Homo sapiens: one gene and its partner. The main gene of each other region encodes a partner of the protein of the gene in region 2 in a complex. Each region holds a gene or a part of one and is shown on either strand. Other genes may lie near its edges. The genes, in order: ICOS and ICOSLG.

Region 1 (12,217 bases), on a different chromosome or scaffold from region 2:
AGAACTTTAAGGTTTAGTGACTGCCCTATTGGATTTCGGACTTGCATGGGGCCTGTAGCCCCTTCATTTTGGCCAATTTCTCCCATTTGGAATGCGTGTATTTACCCAATGCATGTACCTCCTGTATTCGTCTGTTCTCACATTGCTACTAAAGACATTCCTGAGACTGCGTAATTTATAAAGGAAAGAGGTTTAATGGACTCACAGTTCCACATGGCTGGGAAGGCCTCACAATCGTGGCGGAAGGCAAAGGAGAAGTGAAGGCATGTCTTACATGGTGGCAGGAGGGCTTGTGCAGGGGAACTCCTATTTATAAAACCATCAGATCTCATGAGACTTATTCACTACCATGAGAACAGTATGGGGGAAACCACCCCCACAATTCAGTTATCTCCACCTGGCCCTGCCCTTGACACATGGGAATTATTACAATTCAAGGTGAGATTTGGGTGGGTACACAGCCAAACCATACCACTCCCATTGTATGTAGGAAGTAAGTAACTTGCTTTTGACTTTACAGGCTCATAGGTGGAAGGGACTTGCCTTGTTTCAGATGCGACTTTGGACTTGGACTTTTGGGTTAATGCTGGAATGAGCTAAGACTTTGGGGGACTGTTGGGAAGACATGATGGTGTTTTGAAATGTAAGGACATGAGATTTGGGAGGGGCCAGGGGCAGGTTTGGCTGTATGGTTTGGCTGTATCCCCACCCAAATCTCATCTTGAATTGTAATCCCCAGAATCCCCATGTGTCATGGGAAAGACGTGATGGGAGGTAATTGAATCATGAGGGTGGTTTCCCCCACGTTGTTCTCATGATAGTGAGTGAGTTCTCATGAGATCTGATGGTTTTATAAGCATCTGGCATTTCCCTTGCTGGCACTCATTCTCTCTGCTGCTGCCCTATGAAGAGGTGCCTTCTGCCATGAGTGTAAGTTTCCTTAGACCTCCCAAGCCATGCGGAACTGTGTGTCAAGTAAATGTCTTATCTTTGTAAATTACTCAGTCTCAGGTATTTCTTCATAGCAGTGTGAGAACAGATGAATACAGAACTGTAGAATGGTAACTCAGGAGCCAAAGACAGAACTAAGGGAGCCTGAACTCTGCAGAGGCTGGAAGGAATGGGATCCAGAGAGGTGCCTTACTTATGTTTTGAGGAATATACTATCATTGGAATGAAGGCCAACATGAATAAGTGGCAGTATATTTGTTAAAAATATCAATCATACCATTTGGCAGTCACATCTCATGCTGATTTTTTTCACCCCTCATGGAAATATATAATCAGTTTTCTGGGCTTTATGGATTAATTAATAACTTTAAATGAGAAAATATTTGGCTGTCAAAATGGAATATACTTTTGTTTTATGATTAGAGATGGGCAAGTGATGAGAGATGAATCAGGATGATGAATTATATATTTATTCAATTAATTTCAATGTGAAATACAAACATGTTTTGATAATTTTCTGCTCTCACATTATGATTCAGAGTGAAAAATTGTCATTGGTGAGCATTCCCAAGGTCATATGGTTCCTCCAAAAGTCAAGGATTCTTCAAACACTTGTTCATTCAATAAATAGTTGTGGAGCATTGCAAACATACTTGCAAAGAAGGCATCTTTAGGCTGAGGCGGGCAGATCACAAGGTCAAGAGATCGAGACTATCCTGGCCAACATGGTGAAACCCCGTCTCTACTAAAAATACAGAAATTAGCTGGGCATGATGGCATGCACCTGTAGCCCCAGCTACTCGGGAGGCTGAGGCAGGAGAATCGCTTGAACTCGGGAGGTGGAGGTTGCAGCGAGCTGAGAGGTTGCCACCGCAGTCCAGCGTGGTGACAGAGTGAGACTCCGTCTCAAACAAACAGTAACAAAAAAACCCGAAGACATCTTCAGTTCTTGTTCTGATGTTTCTCACAGTTTAGTAGAAGCTGTTGGAAAGCAAACAGGCCATTACAGTGGTATAATTGTTACAATTGTTACAGGTAGCTAGACAAGCATGAGCTGGGCAGGAGAGGGCTCTTCCCCCACTCATAGGAATGCTGGGTGATGGTTTGGCAATTATCACATTGCCTCTCTAAAAGTGATAAATTGGCAGCTGGTGCCAGGGAGAGGTCATTTCCTGATGGTCCACACCTGTTGCACTAAAGTGTTAATTGAATGCGGGTACCAGGTAGAAGCAACTTCCTGGGCCTGCGCATTAAGAGACAAAATGGCCTCTGGAGGCACACCACCAGAAAAGGGAAGAAAGCCTCAGATGAGCACACGTACAGTTTCCTAAACACACTGCATGTGCTCACCTCCTAAGGGTAAGGAGGGCACTGCACATGCGGGCAGCCCACCCTAAGGGAAGAATCCTGTGAAAGAGGCCAGCCTATAAAGTCCTAAAATCAAGGTTAAACACCACACTTGACCTTGGGCCTCTTCCAAGCACATGCTCCTTTTTTCTGTTCTAAAGCTTTTTAAAATAAACTTCTATTCCTGCTCTGAAACTTGCCTCGGTCTGTATTTCTGCCTTATGCTTCTCAGTCAAATTCTTTGTTCTGAAGAGGCAAGAAATGAGGTTGCTGCAGACCTGTACAGATTTTCTGCTGGTAACTAAGATACCTTCCACCGATAACATAATGATTTCTAGGATGGGGGACACAGAGGAGCATTGGGAGGTTGCAGAAAAGCCACTAAATGGACACTAGTTATGGGGGTGGTTGGGAGTGAATGACATTGGTTTGATGTCTTTGATGAATCGATGGGTATGGAAGCAAAGGCCTGAAGAATGGTGGAATATCTGCCAAAGAAGGTAGGCTAGAGTGGTGAGGAGGGGAAGCACAGACAAAATGATGGCTCCTGGCAGTAGAAGGAAGAGTTAGTTTGGGGAATTTGGAGAACTTCATGTCATTCAACGTGATGGAAACATTTGGTACAGAAGGAAGAAAGAACAAATGTGGCAAGAGATGAGGCCGAACTGGGGAAGGAGTTGCCCTTCATAAGGAATCTTGAAGGGGTGTGGGCCTTACCTAAGAGAGGAAGCCAGTGGAGGATCCTGGGTGGGGCGGGGACACAGATGAATTCTATTTACATTTTACAAAGATTACTCTGGTTGTAGCATGAAGACAGACCAAAATGGGACAAGGGTGGGAATAGAAATGACAGAGGCCTGATCTAAGTCAGTGACCTTGGCAAGCGAGGAGGAAAAAATACTTGAGAGACAGTTAGGAAGTAGAGTAATTGGGGTTTATCGGTGAATCAGCAGGAAAAGGGAGAAGGCTGGTTGGTGGTACCACTCAACAGTATAGGCAAGGTAGGAGTTGAAGCAATTGTGATTAGGAAGGACCTCTCACTTTTGATGCTTGTCCCTTTCAGAATGGCAAACCAAGCTTAGGTGAAGCCTAGATATTTGGGGGTTACTTTCTAACCCTATTGCTTGGACTCAACCATGCTGGTGTCTGAGCTCCTCTACTCAGACAAATGTTGCTTTCAGTAAGTTGCAAGCAAAGCAAAAGAAAGACATTCACCTACGGCCCTTCAGAAAAGCAAGCATGCTGCATGATGAACTCTGGTGCCCAGGAGGCAAGAAATAAAAAACACTTTTAATGTAACCAACTTTCCATGCCCCACCCTCACCCCAGGCGTCTGCATACACAAATCAAAACCATCTTAAGTCATGGAATGAAAAAAAATTAAAAGCAAACTAAAAGCACTTCCTGTGAGGTGAATGGAAATTTTTGCCCAGTTAATTTTCCAGGCACGTGAAAGCAGTTCTGAATATTTTAAACCACAAGTACTTGTATTCTTGACCAAGATTTTTGAGAAGGCGAGGCATGGGAAGGATCATTGAAACAGGACTTTGACATAAAACATTGTTTACATAGAAGTGAGCTCTTCTCCACTATCGGATCAATTTACCACCCAGTGTCTGACAAACTGAGAAGCGAGAGGGTTGGGAAAAAGCAAAGAGATACATATCAAACAAAACCACACATATCCAGTTGAACTAAAGCTGAATTTAACCATAACTTGTGCAACTTTTCTCCCCTTGAGGTAGAAACATTACACCTCCAATTGACCAGGACATCTTTTTTTGCATTCAAATTATCTTGGAATTTCCTCTAGGACCTAAGTATCCTTCCACCATGAAAATAGGAGACCAAAAAAAGTAATGCTTCCAGTAATTTCTAGCCAAATAAATGAGGATAAGTGTGTGAGTGTGGTGGGGTAGTTAAGAGTTTGGAATCCAGAGTTTCACTGTCTGGATTTGAACAGGCTCCGTTGCTCATCAGCTCTGTGACTCCGGGCAAATGACTGAATCTCTCTAACTCTCAGTTTTCTCATCTATGAAATGAGAATAAGTAACAGACTCTCCCTCGCTGAGTTGTTTGAGAACGGGATCAGACAATGCACGTGGAGCCCCGTGTCTGGCACACACTATGTCCTCATTGCATATTTATTATTAGGTTTCTGCTTTGTATTTTTCTCTGTGCAACAGCCCTGAGCTCTAGAACTTATGACAGCTTTTCTCAAGTGAAGTTAAAGTTCCCCATACTCAGTTCCAGAGCTAGGCCTCACCTAGGTTGGAAGAAGTCAATTGTTCTCCACTGCCTGCCTGTGTGCTGGGAAAGGACTCTAGCACAGTGCCGGTGGGGCTGGAAGCCTTTCCTCATGATGCTACGGGGAGTACAGTGAAAAGGGAGGAGATTGGGGTAGCAAGGTCCCAGGGGTCCTGGCAGCCCAGGCTCTACTTCTCAGGCTAGCTCAGTCCCTCAAACAGCTTCCTTCACACCCACTGCTGAGACCCAGGAGCCCTACAGAAGGTAGCTAGGGGAAGCTTCAGCAGCTAGGGGGATCCCTGCAGGATCAGCCTCCTCCTTACCTTGCAGACCCCTTGGCTGTGGTCTGGCATTCCTAGTGGCTGGCCTAAAGCCCCAAACCTGGAATCTGTTTCAGAGCCTGGACCTTTTGGACTCACACCTTGGTTTCCCTGGCCAGCTGATTTCAGCTTCTCATCTAAATGTCATTTCTGCAGGCTAAGGGAAGTCCAGCCTGGATCTAGCATCTTGGAAGCGCGTTCAGACTTCTGGATGGAGGGATCAGCAGGCCTTGGTATTGGTGGTTCTACCTGCTTCGGTTAAGAGTGAGGACTCTGGAGCCAGACTCTCTAAATCATAGCACTGACACTTACTATATGACTTGGGCCAGGTTCGTTACCTGTCTGTGCCTCAGTTTTCCTCATCTGTAAAATGGGAGATTAGTGGTCACCATTGGGATGATTAAGAAGATTAAATGAGTTAATGTATGTATAAACTATAGTTATAATGTAAATATATATACAAACAGTAACCATTTACATGCATATAAAACATAATATAAATGTAATATTAGCTATATTCATATATAAAAATAGGTATATTTTATATATAAAATATATTACATTTAATTTTTTACATTTTGCATTAAGATATATTATTTCATATAAAACATTTAAGTACATATACATATAATTATCTATGTAATTATTATTGTTATTGTTGTTATTGTCTACTTTACCTCCCTGCAGGGATGGGGAGACCACGGCAGGCTTTTAAACATTCTTGGTCTCACTGAGCCGTAGGTGAGGAATCCCTGGTTCCTACAGACTCTGCTGTAATATGAGGAGCAGGGTTTAAGTTAGTTTAAAACTGACCCCATCATTTGAAACATTGCAATCTACAATGAATGCCACATAAATATCATTTCTCAGATTCCTATGATGCTCTTCTTTCAGATCTTTTCACTTCAATTTCTATAATAATTTTGTTTGTTTCTTGTCCTATTTCAAAGGCTTTCTTATCTCTGGAGCACCTAGCATAAGATAGAAATGTGTCAAAATATATGTTTTATTCATCATGTGAGTATTTTTAGGTCCTGTTAACCCCCATAACTATTGATTCAGAGAAGTAGGGTGGTTCTGAAAAATACAGGCATAATCTCTTTAACTTGTTTTATAGGAACCAGAATAAGGGTAATGTTTTCCTCTGTCTTCAAAATCATCAATAATCCATGCATTGTTTAACTCATGTCATAAGCAATAATGCCTTTCATATAGCCATTGGCATCAAAGAAGAAACACCCCCTTGATTTGATGGTAAGCGTGACACTACATAAACTCCCAGAAAACCCACTTCCTTTCCAGCAAATAGAAAACAACCGAGAGCCTGAATTCACTGTCAGCTTTGAACACTGAACGCGAGGACTGTTAACTGTTTCTGGCAAACATGAAGTCAGGCCTCTGGTATTTCTTTCTCTTCTGCTTGCGCATTAAAGTTTTAACAGGTAAGTGGTGTATTGAATATTTCTTATTAAGTTATAATTCAAGTAAACATTAAGAAAAAGCAAAGGTAGAAAAATTACGCACCCAAAAGACAGTGGTTTTGGTTTTTGAAAGTAGGAATAGTTTCAGGATATGGCCAAGGGCACCATGTCACTCATGTCACTGTGGATGGCATTGAGTTTGCATTGCTGCCTTTGATACTGTGTCTTGAGATGAAAAACATGTTTCATCAGACCATTAAATTTTTAAATTACCTGCTTGGAGTTACCTGTCAGTGGATAAACTAGCAGAGTGGCTTACTGTTCTTAGAGAAAGATGAAAGGCAAAATGACTTGTGTCAACAGAATGAAAATTAAATAGCTCTGGCATTTGGACTGGGAATTCTTTCTGTGGTAGAAAATAAAATGGGAAGTCTTTGAAAAGAAGGATTTTGATTTTAATCTTACCTGGATGATCTGTTATCTGAAATGTCCAGGGCACCATAGAGTTTTTATTGACACTAAGTATCAGAGTTCACCCTAAAAAGCCAAGGAGGAAAGGATAATGTAAAAATACTTCCTAGCCCCTGTAGACCTTACAAAAAAGATCATTCTGGAGTCCCTGATTCCTTCTCTTGAATGGCATATAGCAGACTCTATATGGACAATTTAAATAATGCTACATACAATGTAAGTTAATACACGTGTTTCTGCTGCTTTTTACTGTATATAATTTGTACTACTTTTGTTTTCTCTTTCACACTGAGCCCTATTCTTGAGGTTGAAAAAAGGAAAGTTAAGTAATATTAAATAACTTAAATAATCAAATAAACTAAAAGTGAAGGCAGAACTTTTAGTAGGTATGATCCTATCTAGGGATACATTTTTTCAGTGGCAAAAAAATAGACCTTACTGTTCTTACAAAAAATGAAAAAAAAATGAAATCAAATTGATCAAATGTTTCATCTTGTGCTGGCTCAAAGTGAGTTAAGTGCAGTTAAGAGGATTGAGGAATGTAGAATGAGCACAAGGACAGTTTTGGGCTACTTGCTGGTTTATGCCTTTTCTAGAATCTCATGAAGTCCTTTAGCGGCATGAATGACATGAGCAGCTTTGGAATTTATATTCATTCTTCATTCATCCATTTACTCATGTAGCATTGAGCACCTGCCTGGTAGCAGGTACTGTGCCAGATGGTGTATGTACAAGGATGAGCAAAACCAGGTCAACCCCTGTTCTTTGGAAGGTAACTGCATGGTAGAGAGAGATATATTAATCAAATAATCCCATTGATTAATGATAATTACAGGCAAAACTCAATTATATGAGGGAATGTAACAAGGAGCTTGACTAGACTGGGTGGGTGTGGAGGTGTAGCTGAGGAGCAGGGTTCATTGAAGTCTTTCCTGTGCAAGTGGCACTTGAGCGGAGATTTCAAGGACAAGGTAGCAATCAATGGGGAGAACGGTATGAAGGTAGGGAAGAACGTTCCATACCATGGAAGGAACAAGTGCAAAGAGCCTGTGGCAGGAAGGAATGAGGTAAGGTTAGGGAACTAGAAGAAAGCAGACAGATGTGCCTGAGCACAAAGAGGGAAGAGGCTGAGCTTGGTCCAAGATGACCAACTGGTCCAAGTTGGTCCAAGGTGAGGCTGGAAAGGAAAGTAGAGGCCAGACCATTCAGACCATATAGTCTATGTTCCAGATTTTGGATATTCTTCCAAGAACGTTGGTACCATTCGTGGAAGGGTTTGTTTGTATTGATAAAAATCATTCAACTAGGCCAAACCAATTTGGGCAGTTCTGGTTGTGGTATTATGCTCAGGAGAATTAAAGTAGCATCGGTGTCAATTCTGTGGAAGGTGAGATCCAGCCTTAGGTAGGATTGTTTTAAGTTTCCAGATTAAGCTGACGAATAATTTGTATTCTGGAACAATATTCATCGTAGATTCTAAATGAATACAACCAATGTTCACTCTCATTATAAAGAAAGCCATGAGATGTGGCATGCTGTTTGGCATGTGGCAAACCTGAGGCACGAGTGGCTAAATGGTAACAATAAATCTGCTAGCAATGATCCTATTTAAAATATCTCCACAATGCATGTATCCAGAAACTGCCATGTAAAAGCTCTAAAGAAAAAGAGCCAAACTCAAGTAAACTAAGTACTTGCTTGTCCTCTGTTGTATTTTCAATCCTCCCAATTTACATAGGCTTTCTCATGCCATGAAGATGTAGGCATTCTTACCTTTAGTCAGTGTTTGAAGAATTTCCAACCAGGAAAGGTTAAGTGATTTGTTACACAGTAGTTGGTGGCAGAACCAAAGTTAGAACTCTAATGTGACTCCAACATCTACATTCTTTCTAAACTGTGTTGAAGTAGTGGAGGTGTAACATAAATCTAAAGGAACGTAAATCTCAATGATTCTGATCACCTTTGTTATTTGGTTGTGAATTAAGAAGGATGGGAATCTTGCTGATTTCTAGTCTTTGATGGATCTCAATGTAGAATTTAACAAAGTCTTGTTTTTTTTTAATGAACTTGGAGCAATAGGACACTTTTAATTATAAAAATATCTACGAAAAATGTGAATGTCTAACTACATTTTGAAGACCCTCTTTGTAGACCTTATAGGCAACAGGGACCATATGAGTGATGGGACAAATTCTGGTTTTAGAAAGACTACTTTAAAAGCAGTGTGGATAATACACCAGATTGGGAAGGGCTGATGGCAGAGGGTGTCTAATAAACGTGCATGTATTATGATGTGTTCTGTGAGGAAGCTGGGAGGATAGCCCTCAAGGCCACTTTGAGCCTTCCTTTGTCACTGAGGCATTCCATTAGTGACTCCTGAATTCCACTTGGGAAAAGAGCCCCTCAGTGTCTCCAGCGTCTGAGAGAAGTCTGTGAAGATGACTGACCTTGGAGCCCCTCTTAGCCTCTCCACGACTGAGTAAATGTCATCTCCTGACAGCACCCCCTTCCAGAGTGTTCTTGTTAGATTTAACAAAAATCCCAGTTGTCAATTTTTTCTTTTGATAGATGAATTCAGGCCATTCCCAGTCAGCATAAGCCTCTACTTGATTTTATTTCTATGTTTATTTACTACTTATTTTTCTTTGTTGTATCCTCTTTTTCTCTTTTATTTTTGTTGGTGTGATGAAATTTCTTTTGACTCTCCTCTTTGCCTCCGGTTAATTTGGAAGGTCGACTACAGTTCTTAATTTACTAAGTAATTGACATGTTCAAAGAATCTTAATTGAATGTCTACTTGTTTATCATTGTATGAAAATAATGAAAATGCCTTTGTCTGATGTGCCTAGTCCCCATCCCCTGCACTGATATGAGAACTTAAGAATGTTCTTCCTTTCCCACTCTCACACTTCCCCCAGACAGTGCACCCTGCTCCATACGTGGGTTTTGTGGAAATAATTTAAAACTTACAGTTGCAGATCATTGCTAGGTTTCCTCTTACAGTATTTCTCTTCTGTTTCAAGAATCCTTTCTTAACACTTACATCACATACGTTCAATGACAACATCATTCTGGACATCTGCTCCTGTCTTGTGATCTCTGTTCTAATCTAATGATCAGAAGACTTCTCTTATTTTCGTTAAATACCCCCAACTCTCTGAATTCCAGTACAGGTAAGGGTGTCTTCCTTTTACCTTGATGAGTGACTGATATCTTTCCTGGGAATAGGAGTCCTGGATGGCAGCCTTTCTTCTTAGTGGTTGCAGATATTCCTCCACTGTCTGCTGGCTTCTAGGGTTGTGGGTGAAGAGTTTGATGGTAGTCTAACTCTCATTCCTTTGTAAAAAAAAAAAAAACTCTAGAATTTCATAATCTTGAAAGCTATTTACTTCAGTATTGGAATTCAGGAATTCCTCCAGGATATGTGTAACTCTCTCCCTCTGTTTCTCTTTCTGTGTGTTTCTATTAATTTTTTTTTTGAGGCGGAGTCTCACTCTGTCGCCCAGGCTGGAGTGCAGTGGCGCAATCTCGGCTTACTGCAACCTCCACCTCCCGGGTTGAAGCGATTCTCCTGCCTCAGCCTCCCAAGTAGGTGAGACTACAGGCACCCGCCACCACGCCTGGCTAATTTTTTTGTATTTTTCGTAGAGACGGGGTTTCACCGTGTTAGCCAGGATGGTCTCAATTTCCTGACCTCGTGATCCGCCCACCTCCGCCTCCGCCTCCGCCTCCCAAAGTGCTGGGATTACAGGCGTGAGCCACCGCGCCCCGCTGTTCTATTAATTTATTATTATTTTTTTTAAGACTGGGTGAAAGTTTTCAATCTCTAGACTCAAGCTTTATTCTTCATTTCAGTCATTTTTTTCCTAGTATTTGTTTAATCATACCTTATGCTGTTTTTCCCCACTCTTTCTAGAAATGTCTCTTATTCTTATGTAAGATCTTGAGTCCCTTATTTTTTCATCATTTGTGAACAAAATGGCTTTCACAACTTGCTGTTGCTTGTTAACCACAACTCCTTCAGATGAAATGGATATTTCAGTTTTAAGTTACTAGTAGCATATTCCCATTTCTTGGTAGAAACAAAATGCAGGCATGTAGGGGGGACTGAAATTCTTATATTTACTCACTGTAAGATTCATAGCATTATTTGGCTTAAAAAAATTCATCCCAGTATTCACAGTTGTAAACAGCAAAATCTACAACATATACTGCTTCCCTACTCTAAGAATATTGAGTTTTATATGCAAAATGACTTACTGGGCTTTGCAAATTTTTAAAAATGAGTTTTAAAATCATTTGTAGCTTGCAATAACTGAAGAAAAGATCACAATTTCTCTGTAAATGGCATCTCAGTACTACTGCTGTTCTAATAAACTAGGTCTGTCAAATGGCACTTTTTGGTCATTCAAAGTGAAAAAAACATGGCATTTGAAACCTTATAAAAATTCACAATTATATTTTGGAAAGTGGAACTTAAGTATGTAGGGGATATGTCACACAAATTGAAAGTGTTAGTCAAGAAATGATTTTTTTTTTCAATAGTTTGGCCTGTAAGGTTGACCAAAACAGGTAAAGATTTGCAAGTTTAGAGAGTCAGAAACTGGGGATATGAACTTCCTTCTGGTTCATGTATAACATAATGATGCTTGTATCTACTTTGCTTGAGGAAAAAAAAGAAACACGTTGTCCCCAAATAGGGTGATAGACCAGGAGTTTCCATCCAGTTGACCACGAGTGTTGTTAGGATCTGTTTATTTGAGTCATGTTGACACAGACACAGCACTTTCAATAAGCAATTAATGATCATTTAAAGGTAACTTTTTTGAATTTGATAAATAGATTTTTTTTACAGCCTGTATTTGTGTTCTTCTAGGACTTTGCAACAAAGAATCTGTACATGCAAAAACAACAATAACAACAACAAGCTGTCTACTGCACTCACAGTTAAAGTTCTGTTTACTTTGCACTATCTAGGACTAATGCAAAAATCTCATAGATGTGCCTATTTGCACTTATTTAATTATGATGAAATTTACTTCTATATGTGAATCCATTTCTGTACATTTCTACAGGCAGATAAGTGATGGGAAAATCATTAAGAATTTAGACTTCATCAGAGAAGAACCCAGGTACAATGACAGCCCAGCTTAATACATGATGGCTGATGAATGAAAATGTCTAGGGAAATGAGTGTGTTATGTACAATGTAATTTCATATCTAAGTCACTTTAAAATAATTTTTTGATATATAATAACCCTTTCAATCACAGAACACATATGTGGCACCAATGTGAATACTACTTTAAGTATTAAGGTGATAATATATCCAATATACCTAGAAGGAAAATAAATACCTGAAATTCATTTTCATATCTAGCTTAATGTTAAAAGCTTCTTTTTGTTTTTTTATTTCGTAGCAAATCTCTTTAGCTCTGATGCTTTAGTTTCTGTACAATG
Region 2 (12,193 bases):
TGAACATTCACGGACAGGCATTTGTTTGAGTCCCTGTTCTGAATCCTCTGGCCTATATCGCTAGGAGAGAACTGCTGGGTCCTGCAGTGCTTCCACGCTGAGCTTTTCGAGGAACTGCCACAACGTTCCCCATGGCAGCTGCGCCCTTCTGCTTTTCCGCCACGATGCACAAAGCTAACAATGCCTCTGGTCTCTGTGTGCAGTGCCCTTCAGAGAGCCGTCCTCACCGGCAAACAAGCAGCGGCATCCCCCTGGGAGCTTGTTCTGAATGCCCGGCGCGTCTCCAAACACACTTGGAGAAACCACCTGGACGGTGCTCAACCTTGAACCTCTGAAGCTTTTAGACACTGTCCCGATGCCAGGTGCCAGCCCAGAGCTTCAGGTGCAATGGGTCTGGGCATGGGGGCTTTCATAGGCTGCCCAGATGACCCCACTGTGTGGCCGGGGTTGAGACGACAGCCCTGGGAGAAGCTTCTGCTGCCACCTGGGCTGCTCTGCGGGGAGTATGCTGGCTGGAAGGCAGTTATCAGAGGCTGCTTTGGGAGCAGCCCCTCATCCCGCTGCATGCAGCTCAGACACTCTGAATGTTGAGTCAGAAGGGCTGAGCCCTGATTTCAAGAAGGAGAAGGTCCGGCTCTGCCGGGGATCCTGGCGGCCAGGGTGGACTTCGAGGGTATGACCTGTGCAGGCTTCTGGGGTTGAGCTCAGAAAGGCCGGCAGGAGGTGCAATGCTTGTGGTCACTGTCTGGAATTCTTAATGCTCCCGAAACAAGGAGCCCTGCATTCTTGCTTTGCCCAGGGCCACACGGTGAGTCCTGCTGGCAGCCCCTTTCCTGCAGCCAGCAGGGCCCCAGGACCCCTCCTCGATCATCTCCTGCCTCCATCTTCTGCCTCTCATCCTGACACAGGAGATGGGGACACAAATGGGGAGGGCCTGTGTCCTCTACAAAGGAGTCCCCGTAGAGGAACCCCTTCCACAGGGCACCCCTTCCACAGGGAGGGGCTGGGCCAGCAGCCGTGCGCAGTGGGATTCCCGTGTCTGGGGGCTTCAGTCTTCTCAGGGGACACACGCCCAAGAGGCAGGGAGCTTGGGTGGGGGCTGCACAGCTGTGGGCTTCTGTTCTGGGCTGCTGCTGCCTAGTGCTGCGGCTTCTGAAGTGTTACCCAGCCTCAGAGTTCAGCCCTCATCTGTAAAGTAGGTTTAAGAAAACCGACTCCAGGTGAAGAAAATGGAGCAATATGCACTGGGCACGGCACCCATTCCTGTTCCCAGAGACCGCGGTGGTTCTCACTGTGCGGCATGTGCCTCTCACCTCCCCTCCCTTCCAACCACCTTTCGGGTGCTGAGCCGCGTCGAAGGGACTTTTTGTCTCCTACCTCAGAGGCTCTCCCAAGCCAGCCCTGGCCCCACTGTCGGGCACAGCTCAGCACGCAGGCGCCGGGACCTTACCTGTCTGGCTGCCGACAGTCAGGTTCTGCTGCAGAAGCACGTTCTCTATGCAGCAGCCAATGTTCACGCTGGGGGTCCGTGCGATCCTCAGCACGCTGACCACGTCATACAAGCCCCGCATGTTCAAGAAGACGGTGTCATTCTGCAGAGCCTGGTCCAGCAGGCTGTTGTCCGTCTTATTGATCCAGTACACGTTGGGCCTGGGGTAGCCGTTTATGGATGTACACGTGAAGGTGAGCTCATCCTGGGAGGGGCTGTGGGGGGCGCTGACGACGGGCACGCTGAAGTTTGCTGCAGGGGAGGGAAACAGATTGTGAGAGATGCCAGACCCTGCTGGTCAAGAAACAGAGGGTACACGGTGCCAAGGCTGGGTCAGAGGGGAGGCGGCCCATTGTGCCCCGACATGGGTGACAGGCCAGGACCAGGGCTGTGGTCCGAGCAGCAGGCTCCGCCCTGTCCTGCCCAAGAGTCATCCCCCAAGCCAGTCCCAGTAGCCAGGGACCGCTGAGCCTGTCGGGCAGTGACTGGCACCCACAGACCCCCCACTCCACAGCCGTCGGCTGTGCCGGGACCCCCTCATTTGGATCTGGTCATTCTCACTGCTGACACAGGGGCTCACAGTCCATCTGAAATGGACACAGCTGTTCTCCCCAATGAACTGCCCAGAGCTCCTTGGTTGCCTCTTATTTTTCTCTTAAATTTTGTTCTCATTTAGTGCTTTATAGAGTTCCCTTCAAATTTCACTTTTAAAACTCTAGTTTGGATGTGGTGGCTCACGCCTGTAATCACAGCACTTTGGGAGGGTGAGGCAGGAGGATCGCTTGTGTCCAGGAGTTTGAGACCAGCCTGGGCAACATAGTGAGACCCCATTTCTACAAATAATCAAAATTAGCCAGGCGAGGTGGCATGTGCCTGTAGTCCCAGATACTCAGGAGGCTGAAGCAGGAGAATTGCTTGAGCTCAGGAGGTCAAGGCTGCAGCGTGATCACGCTACTGCACTCCAGCCTGGGCAACAGTGAGACCCTGTCTCAAAAAACAAACTAATTGGCCAGGCGCGGTGGCTCACACCTGTAATCCCAGCACTTTGGGAGGCTGAGGCGGGCGGATCACGAGGCCAGGAATTTGAGACCAGCCTGGCCAACATGGTGAAACCCTGTCTCTACTAAAAATACAAAAATTAGCTGGGTGTGGTGGCACGCGCCTGTAGTCCCAGCTACTCGGGAGGCTGTGGAGAATTGCTTGAACCCAGGAGGCGGGGGTTGCGGTGAGCCAAGATTGTGCCACTGCACTGCAGCCTGGGTGACAGAGCGAGACTCCGTCTCAAAAAACAAAAACAAAAACAAAAGCTAACTAACTCAAGAGGCAAAGACAGCAAGGGTAGGAGCTCTTCCGGGAAACCAAGCAGCCGCAGGTCATGCACTAAGGATTTTTCAGCTGTTTAGTTTCCCTCGAAGTTAGACAGAAGCCTGATAACACAGATGAGAATTTTCTTCACTGGAAGAAACAGTGAATGAGCCAGGGAGGGGGTTTCATGAACACTTGTCCACGATGTGAGGCTGGGATGGACCTAGCTCTCCCCGCCTCGATGGTCCTACCTGCCACATGCAGTGTAACCTCAACGCTCAAAACCTCCTGGAATCCCAGGGATTGGCTCAACACCAGGCAGTGAAACTTCTGCTCGTCCTGGGGGGTGACGTTGAACAAGCGCAGGGAGAAGTCGCCCCGCAGCATGCCGGCCGGTGACATCAGGGCTCGGTTCCGGTAGCGGCTGTCCACGTTTTCCAAGGAGCTGTTCTGTGGGATGTGGTAGGTCACCACGGTTTTCGACTCACTGGTTTGCCAATATACGTAAACATCATTTAAATCAAAACGGCTTCCTTCAGGGCAAGCGCAGCTGAGCTCCACGTCGCTGCCTACCATCGCTCTGACTTCCTTCTCCTGAGTATCTGCAATGGCCCAAAAGGTGCAAAATCTGTTTTCGGAGGCTGATGCCCAGGCCATGAAGCTACTCTATGGGGCAGACTTTGGGTTTCAAGCCTCAAACACCAACGGTGGCTCAGAATTTATTAACAAGGCACATGTAGGAATGCAGTCAAACTTGAAAAACGCAGACATTTCATGGTGAGGTCCATGTCAGTCTTTGGCTTCGATGACACACTCCTGTTATGTAAGGGGCTGCCATGGGGAGGAGCGGCTGGATGGGGCCTGGCCGCTCAGTGTTATTTTTGTTACTCAGCACTACTTTTACTACTTCTCGGGAGTCTATAATTAATGCACAATAAAAAGTTCTTTAAGGGAAAGGCATTTAAGGGAAAAGAATTTCTCAGCAATTACATTATATTGCTGCTCACTTGCAGTAGGAAAGCTGTCACAAATGTGGCAGACACAGGGTAGCTTTACTGTTTGTGCAGCTACGTAAATGCCTGTGGGAAAATCTTTTTTTTTGAGATGGAGTCTTGCTCCGTCACCCAGGCTGGGGTGCAATGGCGTGATCTCAGCTCACTGCAACCCCCGACTCTGGGGTTCACGCCATTCTCCTGCCTCACCCTCCCAAGTAGCTGGGATTACAGGTGCCCGCCACCATGCCCAGCTAATTTTTTGTATTTTTAGTAGAGATCGGGCTTCACTATGTTGGCCAGCCTGGTCTCGAACTCCTGACCTCAGGTGATCCACCCGCCTTGGCCTCCCAAAGTCCTGGGATTACAGGAGTGAGCCACTGCACCTGGCACCTGCAGGAAAATCTGTGTGTGTCCCCTGCCCCCAAAGCCCTCTGGGCTGGAAGGCTTGGCAAGGTTTCAGGTTTGTGCTGCGGTGCTTCGTCCTTATTCCTGGCTCTTCCAGAGGCTGGTGGCTCTTAGGGCTCAGCAGGGCTGCTGCCTGGGACAGGGAGACCAGGGGACCCAGGAAGCCCTGGCTCAGAGGAACTGCATTCTGCCCGCAACAAAGACGGAGTCAAACAAGAACTCCGGAGTTTGCAGAAGTGTTTCCCTTTAAGGAAACGCTTCTATCCTGTGCAGCAACCTAGGTTTAGGGTCCAACTGTCTCCAAAGGACCACTTGAGAAGCAAGAAGGAGCCTGGTGAGGCTGCTCCCAGTGCCCTGCGGCCAGCAGTCCACACAGCCGGAGAGCCCATCTCTGAGCTGGGCGCCCCATGGCAAAGCACCCCCTGAACTTACCAGCTCGAAGGCTGCTGAAGAGCAGGAAGAGCAGTCCAGGACTGGAAAAAACAACCAGAAAGGCAGGTGAGGCGGGGCCACCAGGGAGTTACCTGTATCTTCCAAACAGGAACAGGCTGGTTCCCATGAGCAGGAGGTAGTTAAGCCCATCACAGAAATGTGAAGGCAGAGCCAGGAGCCTGCCTGCCTCTGTTCTCCATGGGAATTCGGGGTCCGGGGCCAGGACCACCACCCTCCTGCCCAGCACAGCAAGTCCGAGGGGCTGGCAGCCTCTCACCACTCTCTAGCTCTCGCGGTAACAAATCCCCAGAAACACAGTGATGCTGGCGTGAGGATGAAGGGGAGCGAGGGACGCCAGTGAGGCTGGTCTAGCCTTCCTGGGGACAGATGCCAAGAAGTTGTAGGAAATCAGAAAAAAAAAAAAAAAAAAAAGCTTTCAGGGCACATATAGTAGGAGTGTCACTTAAAATGCTGGGGAGACGGAGAACATCAGGCGTGCCCGTGACAGGGTCAGGTGAGTGACGGGACAGCCCTGTGCGGAACGCGGATCATTTTGAAACCAAACCTGAGCTCCTCCTGTTTCAGATCCTGCTGCAGCTGGTGCCCCTGCCTCGGGCAGCAAATTCCCCTCGTGACTCCAATGCCCCTGCCATCTTGGGTCTGGGAGCCTTTGCACCCTGCACGCCACAGGCTCGCCACCTCCTCCCGCCAGCCCCCAGGATGCCTTCCCCACGTGGGGGCCCTTAGTGGCCGGGACCACTTTGGTAGCAGTGCTTACCCCAGCCCCCCAAACCATCAGTTTCTGGGGCCAGCTCCCCATGAAGCAAGAGCCCCAGGAGCAGGGACATCTCCTTCTCTGATGTCCCTGCACCTCCAAGGTCTGGGAGACGCTCATCCCTCTTCTCTGTGGCCTCTGCCTGGGAAAGCTTGGGGGCTTTGTAAGTCAAAGGTTGGTCTTGTGGGAACCTCCCAGTGGGCTGTCCCTGAGCCCTGGAGCCACAGAAACCCCTGCCCCACCCACGATGGCTGTCATCTGAGTCTGCATGGAGGTGTGTCTGTGCCAAGTGAGCACACATGCACCAAGGCGGCCCCTGGCCACCAGGGGCTCTTGAAGTCTGCAGGCGGCCCTTCCTCTCTCTCCCACTCCCCCTGTTGGGGCCACCATTCTGGCTGGCAAGATGGCTGTGATGGCCTCCAGCAGGCCCCCTGCCTCCACCCTTAGCCCCTTCAAGCATTTCCCCAGAGCCACCATCTAAACGACAGCTGTGAGAACTCCTCTGTGCCCCCATTTGTCTCCCACAGTGCCCATATTCATCACCAGCCCACAAGGCCCCTCCTGTCTATGGAGGCCTCCTCAGGACATCTGGGGGCTTCCTGGGCCAGGGTGGGGGGTGCCTGCTCCAGGCTGTTTCTGGCTTGTCCCCTCCCTGGGTGCTGCCTAAGCAGCGGCCTCTGTGTCCTTTCCTTGGACCCTCAGCACCCCTGCATCTAACCTACCCCCACCCCGAGCTTGCCTCAAGACCCAGCATGGACAGGGCCGCCTACCTGAAGGTGTGGGTGGCGGAGGGCTAAGACATTTGGGAGGGCTATGACATTCCGGGACCTTTAAATTCTTTCTCTCTAGGGCAGGATCATAACTGCATACACTTCTAATGGGGAGGGGACCTGGGGAGTGTGACTCCGGTGTGGCCCAGCTCTGAGCTGTGCGGGAGGCATCCCTGGGGTCAGGGGCCTCACAGGTTCACCCAGGGGAGCACAGGCTGCGGACCCTACAACGTGGGTTGCGAAGAGTATATTTTGGATATTTTCGCAAAAATCCAGGAGGAAGCTGTCACTCCTGGTTCAGGCAGCCCCGCCTTCCCCAGTGTGGATCGGCTGCCGGGCTGCGGGGAATCCCACGTGTGTGGGGGAGGGCGTGTCCGCAGACCGTGGGCACCAGCTGGCCTTGGAGAGCGCTCGGCCGGTCACCTCCCTCCTTCTCCCTTCTTCTAGGAAATCAGCAGTGCCAGGGAGTGGAAGGGGCAGCGCCCGTGCCCCGGCGTGCAGGGTGCGCCCGCCTTCCCTCCCTCCTTCCAGCGTTCGCGGTCCTCCTTCCCTGGCAGGGACCCCGCCCCCGAGCCCGCCCCCGCACGGCTGTGCGTCCTGCCATGGGTCCCGGTGCCAGGCCCCGCCGCCCACTGCCGTCCACGCCCCGCCGGCCGCCCCGGCGCCTCCGCCGCCCGCTCCTCGGACCCGCACTGCCAGCCCGGCACCTCCAGGCGAGCCCCGCAGGCCCCGCGTCCGAGCCGAGCTGGGGACGCGCGGGCCGAGCCACCCCGCCCCTGACCGCGGCGCCTCCGCTCCTTCCCCGGCTCACCTGCCCAGCCGCATGGTGCGGGCGGAGACCTCGGGCCGCGGAGACCTCGGGGCGCGGAGACCTCGGGGCGCGGAGAACTTGGGCCGCGGGAGACCTCGGAGAGGAGCAACCTCGGGGCGCGGGAGATCGGCTCTAACTGCGCTCCCGCCGCGCCCGAGGCTCTGAGCGCCCAGCGCGCGGTGTGCTGGAGGCAGCCGTGTCCCCGCCCCGTCCCCGCCCCGCCCCCGGCCTGGCTCCTCTGGCGACCGAGACCGCCCCGGGACAGGAGGCGGGGCGCTGCGCGGCGGCTCCGGAAAGTTCGGCTCTGCCCAGGCGTGTGCCCGTCGGCCGGAGGCGGGACAGAGGCAGGTCGGCCTGTCCGCCTGGACGCGGACCTGGGCGCCGTAGGTGCCCTGGGAAGCGCAGGGGTGGGGGGTACCCGGCAGGAAGGTGGCCAGGGGTGCTGCGGGTGCCGGCGCAGCGAGGGAGGGCACCGTGGGAGGCAAGGGCCGTTCCCCGCGCCGCGCACAATGCGCCGGTCCTGCGGCCCTCCCCGAGCAGGAGTCCGGGGACCCAGGCCCCAAGGCTGGGAGAGCGCCAGGCCCCTGGCCGGCTGCGCTCCGATGATCTCCAGGACTTAAGGCGAGTGAGCTCAGCGACTGCTGAGGAATGAATGACTGAATGAACGCATGCATGAATGGAAGGAGGGAGGGAAAGTGGGCGGGCTCTACCCTCTGGGCCAGCCCCAGCCCGCCCCCACCTAGCCTTGCTCCCCTAGCCTTCTAGGGGTGTGAAGGGCGCTGGCGCAGCCTCTTTGCTTAACACTGGCTCTGAGGATCCCCCGCCGAGAAACCGAGGCAGGCTTGCGGCTCTGGGCTCGTCAGCCTTGGCAGTGGCGTCTGGCCTGGAGTCTGGGGCAGCTGGTTTGGGAAAGGCTGCACCACGCAACCGAGGGTGGGACCCAGAGTCCCTGCTCCTTCCCCACCGCACCCAGCCCACCCCGCCCTCCCTCCCTGATCCCTGCAAGCCAGGTGAGGCCCAGGGGGGACGTGACTCCCTTTCTGCAGAGGCACCTCCGGAAGGGCCTGGGTGAGGCTGCTAGACAGGGCAGCGGGGCACCCTCCTCCCGGAGCCCCCGCCTCTGGGCTGAGGCTCGGATCCCCACCGCCTCCTGCGCATGGAGGAGGCGAGAAGCGCAGGGAGACGGGGGCCCCAGACGGCACCCCGCAGGCTGCCATTCCTTCAACCAAGATGTAGAGAACGCCGTGGACAAAAGCTTTAAAAAAATTCTGAAACCTCTGCCCGTGGGAAGTCAACATTTTTGCGGAGCAGAGAGCCCAGGCACAAAATAAGAAGGCGGAAGAGACGGGCTGGGGGGATAGGGGGGACGGCGGCGGGGAAGGGCAGGGAGGGCGGCGGCGAAGGCGCAGGAAGCCCTGAAGCCGGGCGGCTTCCCCCTCCCAGGCCACGCTGAGAGACGGGGGTTGGGGGGATTTAAAATCGCGCGCCTGGCAGGGGCGGGGCGGGGGCCACCTGCCCTCCGGCGGGAAGAGCTGGGCAGGGCCCGCGGAGTGCAGGGCGGAGGCACTGGCGGTCCGCACCCGGGTGAGGTGAGGCGCGTAACCGCATCTGAGCCGGACTCTTTAGGACGAGTCCCGTCCCTGGAGTCAGAAAACCCGGTCCAGCGCCAGCGTGGACGTGCGCTTCCCGGGACACGCCCAGGGACGCCGGCTAGGACCGGCGAGGCTGGAGGGGTGGCGATGTTGGGGGCTGAGGTTCCTCGCCCCGGGGCGGGCGGCTGCTGGTAAGGGACCGCATGGCCCCGCAGGTGAGGAGGGCGCAGGTGAGGAGGGCGCAGGTGAGCCGGGCGGGCTGCGGGCAGCGCCACCTCCTCCCGGAGGCCCTCCCTGATTGACCGGCCGGGAACCGCGCGCCTCTGGGCCTGCGGCTGAGGTCCGGGGCTGCGCCGCGCCGATGAGCTGACGCCGGGCCGAGCGCTCCACCCCCAGGGCCGGGCGCACCTGAATCCCCTCCACCCGCGGGACTGCGGAGAGGGGGACGGCCCCCGGATACCGCGTGGGGGCTTTGGGAGGATGGGGAATGGGTCCTGGGGGAGCAGAGCCTCCCAAATTAAGGCCTCCCAAGAGCGCGGCCGGTCATCCGCGGCGGCGAAGGGAAGGTGCCCTGTCGGTGCGTCCGGACCCCGCAGCCCCCCAGTGCCGCCCGGGGGCGGTGGGAGAGGGGCCGACACCGCAGGGCCCGCCGTGCTGTGGCCGAGGGGGCAGGTCCAGGCTCTGCTTCCCGGGCAGACGCCGGAGACCCCAGCAAGCCAAGTGCTGCGGGCAGCCCCCCCCCCGCCCCCCCGAGAGAGGGGACGCCGCGTGGAGGCCACAGCCAGGCAGGGGCAGGAAGGCAGCTGGGCCAGAAGGGGACACTGAGGCAGGCCGAGGCGGCCGCGGGGGAGGGTGCCAGGACCAGCCCAGGAACCTCGGAGACCACGGTAAGCGGTGGCTGGTTCAGATCCCAACTCCGGAGCTGTGTGACCCCAGAAAGTTCCTTAGCCCCTTGGTGCCTGCATCCCCTGACGTGTGACATATACATGAATGGGGCTGTTGTAAGTGAACGCACACAGCACACCGGCACATGTGTCACAACACTTAGATGGGTTTAGATGAAGAAACAGGGAAACCTTTGGGAAGTTTCCTGTAGTCAAAGGAAGGTTTTCGTTTTCCCCCTCAACCGTGACTGTTTCTTGGGCCGGCAGGATAGGCTTTTGTTCTAGGGGTGTGGAGAGAGGGCCCCTTGGCAGCGTCCAGGGCCAACTGGGAACCAAGCAGGAATCGTATTTGTGCAGCCTGGAGTTCGAGGCTCTGGGTGCGAGTCGTAGTGCTTAAGCAGGAAGCAGCTGCCTGATGCCCCTAGCCCCAGGCCGCCCTGCTCTGCCGTTTCGAGGGCGTGGGGGTCTTCTGATCTCCACCTTGATGCACCTCCAGGCCCGGGTCCTTTTGGGGTCTGGCACAGCAACCTGCGTTTGACAGCATGGGCGTCCGCTGATGCTGAGAGCTCAACTTCTGGTCCAAGGAAGATCTTTTCTCTTCGGGGAACAGTCATACATTGTTTAACGAAAAGGATACATTCCTTCTGAGAAATGCGTCCTTAGGTGATTTTGTCCTTGTGTGAACACAGAGTGCACACACTGGCCCTGGTGGCACAGCCTGCTACACGCCGAGGCTGTGTGTCACAGCCTGCTGCTCCAGGGCCACGAGCCTACGCGGCAGGTGACTGTGCTGAATAGCGTAGGCAGCTGTGACTCACTGGTATTTGTGTATCTAAAGCCATCTAAACATAGAACAGGTGCAGTAAAAATACCGCGCTGTGATATGGGAGCACTGTGGCATTGCTTGTTGACCGAAGGTTATGTGGTGCATGACTGTATGTTCGTTTCCTGTGGGCGCTGGAACTAACGACCTCACGCTTGCTGGCTCAAAACAACAGCAGTCTATTCTCTCTCAGCCCTGGAGAGCGGAAGCCTGCCTGGTGGAGGCGCTAGGGGAGTATCCTACCTGCCTCTCCCAGCTCTGGGTGGCCCAGGCATCCCTGTGCTTAGCTCCAGCAGCCGCCTCAGTGGCCATGTGGCTTCTCTGTGTGGTCAAGCCTCACTTTGCCCCTCTCTTATGAGGACCTTTGGGATGACACGTAGAACCCACCTGGATGATCCAGGGAGGCCTTCCACCTCAATTTAATCCCGTCAGCAAAGTCCTTCCTTTGCCACATGAGGTAACATTCACAGGATCCGGGAATGGGGACATGGGCATCCTTTGGAGGGTGGTTCAGCTGAGCATGGGATCATGATACAGGTCCTGTGTATAAAATTCAAATACTTGGCAGGTCGGGCACAGTGGCTCACACCTGTAATTCCAACACTTAGGGAGGCCAAGGTGGGAGGATCACTTGAGCCCAGGAGTTTGAGACCAGCCTGGGCAACAGAGCAAGACCCCATCTCTACAAATAATTTTTAAAAATTAGCAGCGCATGGTAGCATGCACCTGTAGTCCCAGCTACTCCAGAGGCTGAGGCTGGAGGATCTCTTGAGCCCAGGAGACGGAGGCTGCAGTGAGCTATGGTTGTGCCACTGCACTCCAGCCTGGGGGACTAGCTAGACCCTGTCTCAAAAAATAAAAATTTAAAATAAAATACATAGAGAATCTCAAGGTGGTGTGGACAGTTCTGAGTGTTGGGGAGAGAACAAAAGAAGGAAAGTGCATTTTGGGTGGCAGAAAGCCCCTAACAGAGCCTTGGGCCCCTGCTTTGAAGCAGCCCTCACAGAAACTGACCACGAGTTATGTTGGGCCCATGACACTGGTTCCCTGGGTGGACACAGCCTGAGCCCAGCCCGCCCTGTCTGGAGCTCTCACCACCCTGCCTGGCCCGTGCCCATGGGCTCACAATGGCTTCAACCCCATTTATGTGTCAGCTCAAGCAGGCCTCCCCAGAGGGCTCATTTGCACTTGGATGCCCTCACCTGTGCTCCCTCTGTGGCTTCAGGAACCCCGGGGTCATTACAGAGCTTGCTAAATTCATCCCTGGACGTGAGATGTGTGTCGTAAGCATCCAGGACTGTCCCAAGATGGGAGAGGCGTTCAGTCATGTTCACTCAAGTGAAGGCTTCTATTCTACTTCCAGATACACCTTTTTAACCTTCAAAGGGTCCAATTTTAACCTTTCTTCCACAAAGCATTTTACGTACCACTAATAGTCCCAGTGCAGACCCCAAAGTTCCCCTGTAAGATTCATTTCCTGTGATTCGAGCACAGCCTGAGGCAGAGCTTTCTGCTGGGTTTATCCTCACTGAGACTCAGACTGCAGAGGGCCAGGAGGAGCCCTGCTTTTTGCAAGCAATACCACCTGGGGTAGGACCCACAAGTGACATCCTTTGTGCGTGGATCTGGCCTTGGCCTCCGCACCGTCTGTTCAGCAAGTCCCTCCTTTGCCTGCCAAGGCTGAGGTCCTGTACTTTTGTGTGTGGATCTGGCCTTGGCCTCCGCACCGTCTGTTCAGCAGGTCCCTCCTTTGTCTGCCAAGGCTGAGGTCCTGTACTTTTGCAAAGGTCCAGGCTGTTTGGTGCAGCTACAATCAGGGTGCGTGGTTTCTCTATGAACGCAAACAGCGGTCTCAAGGGGAAGGCCCCGGCAGAAAGTGCATCATGCGGGACACGGTGCAGGCGCTCCGAAG

Evidence for each region.
Region 1: the proteins of ICOSLG (region 2) and ICOS are in contact, whole or in part, in a crystal structure (PDB 6X4G), measured with the Homo sapiens proteins. Residues at the interface, in NP_056074.1 of Homo sapiens: Tyr51, Tyr53, Gln55, Lys60, Val62, Tyr65, Ile67, Gln69, Asn75, Leu114, Leu116, Gln118, Gly121, Phe122; in NP_036224.1 of Homo sapiens: Gln50, Lys52, Thr66, Thr68, Gly70, Ser71, Phe114, Asp115, Pro116, Pro117, Pro118, Phe119, Lys120.

The regions. Positions count from the first base shown.
Region 1 is NC_000002.12:203,930,566-203,942,782, forward strand, and holds the start of ICOS (inducible T-cell costimulator precursor), read left to right. Parts: upstream 1-6,197; 5' UTR 6,198-6,249; coding exon 6,250-6,307; intron 6,308-6,335; exon of another isoform or gene 6,336-9,869; coding exon of another isoform or gene 9,870-9,930; intron 9,931-9,951; exon of another isoform or gene 9,952-10,193; intron 10,194-12,217. UniProt on the Homo sapiens protein: Stimulatory receptor expressed in activated or antigen-experienced T-cells that plays an important role in the immune response.
Region 2 is NC_000021.9:44,233,822-44,246,014, forward strand, and holds the start of ICOSLG (ICOS ligand isoform a precursor), read right to left. Parts: upstream 7,123-12,193; 5' UTR 6,997-7,122; coding exon 6,983-6,996; intron 5,004-6,982; exon of another isoform or gene 4,777-5,003; coding exon of another isoform or gene 4,719-4,776; exon of another isoform or gene 4,668-4,718; coding exon 4,627-4,667; intron 3,397-4,626; coding exon 3,046-3,396; intron 1,742-3,045; coding exon 1,451-1,741; intron 1-1,450. UniProt on the Homo sapiens protein: Ligand for the T-cell-specific cell surface receptor ICOS. Acts as a costimulatory signal for T-cell proliferation and cytokine secretion. Also induces B-cell proliferation and differentiation into plasma cells.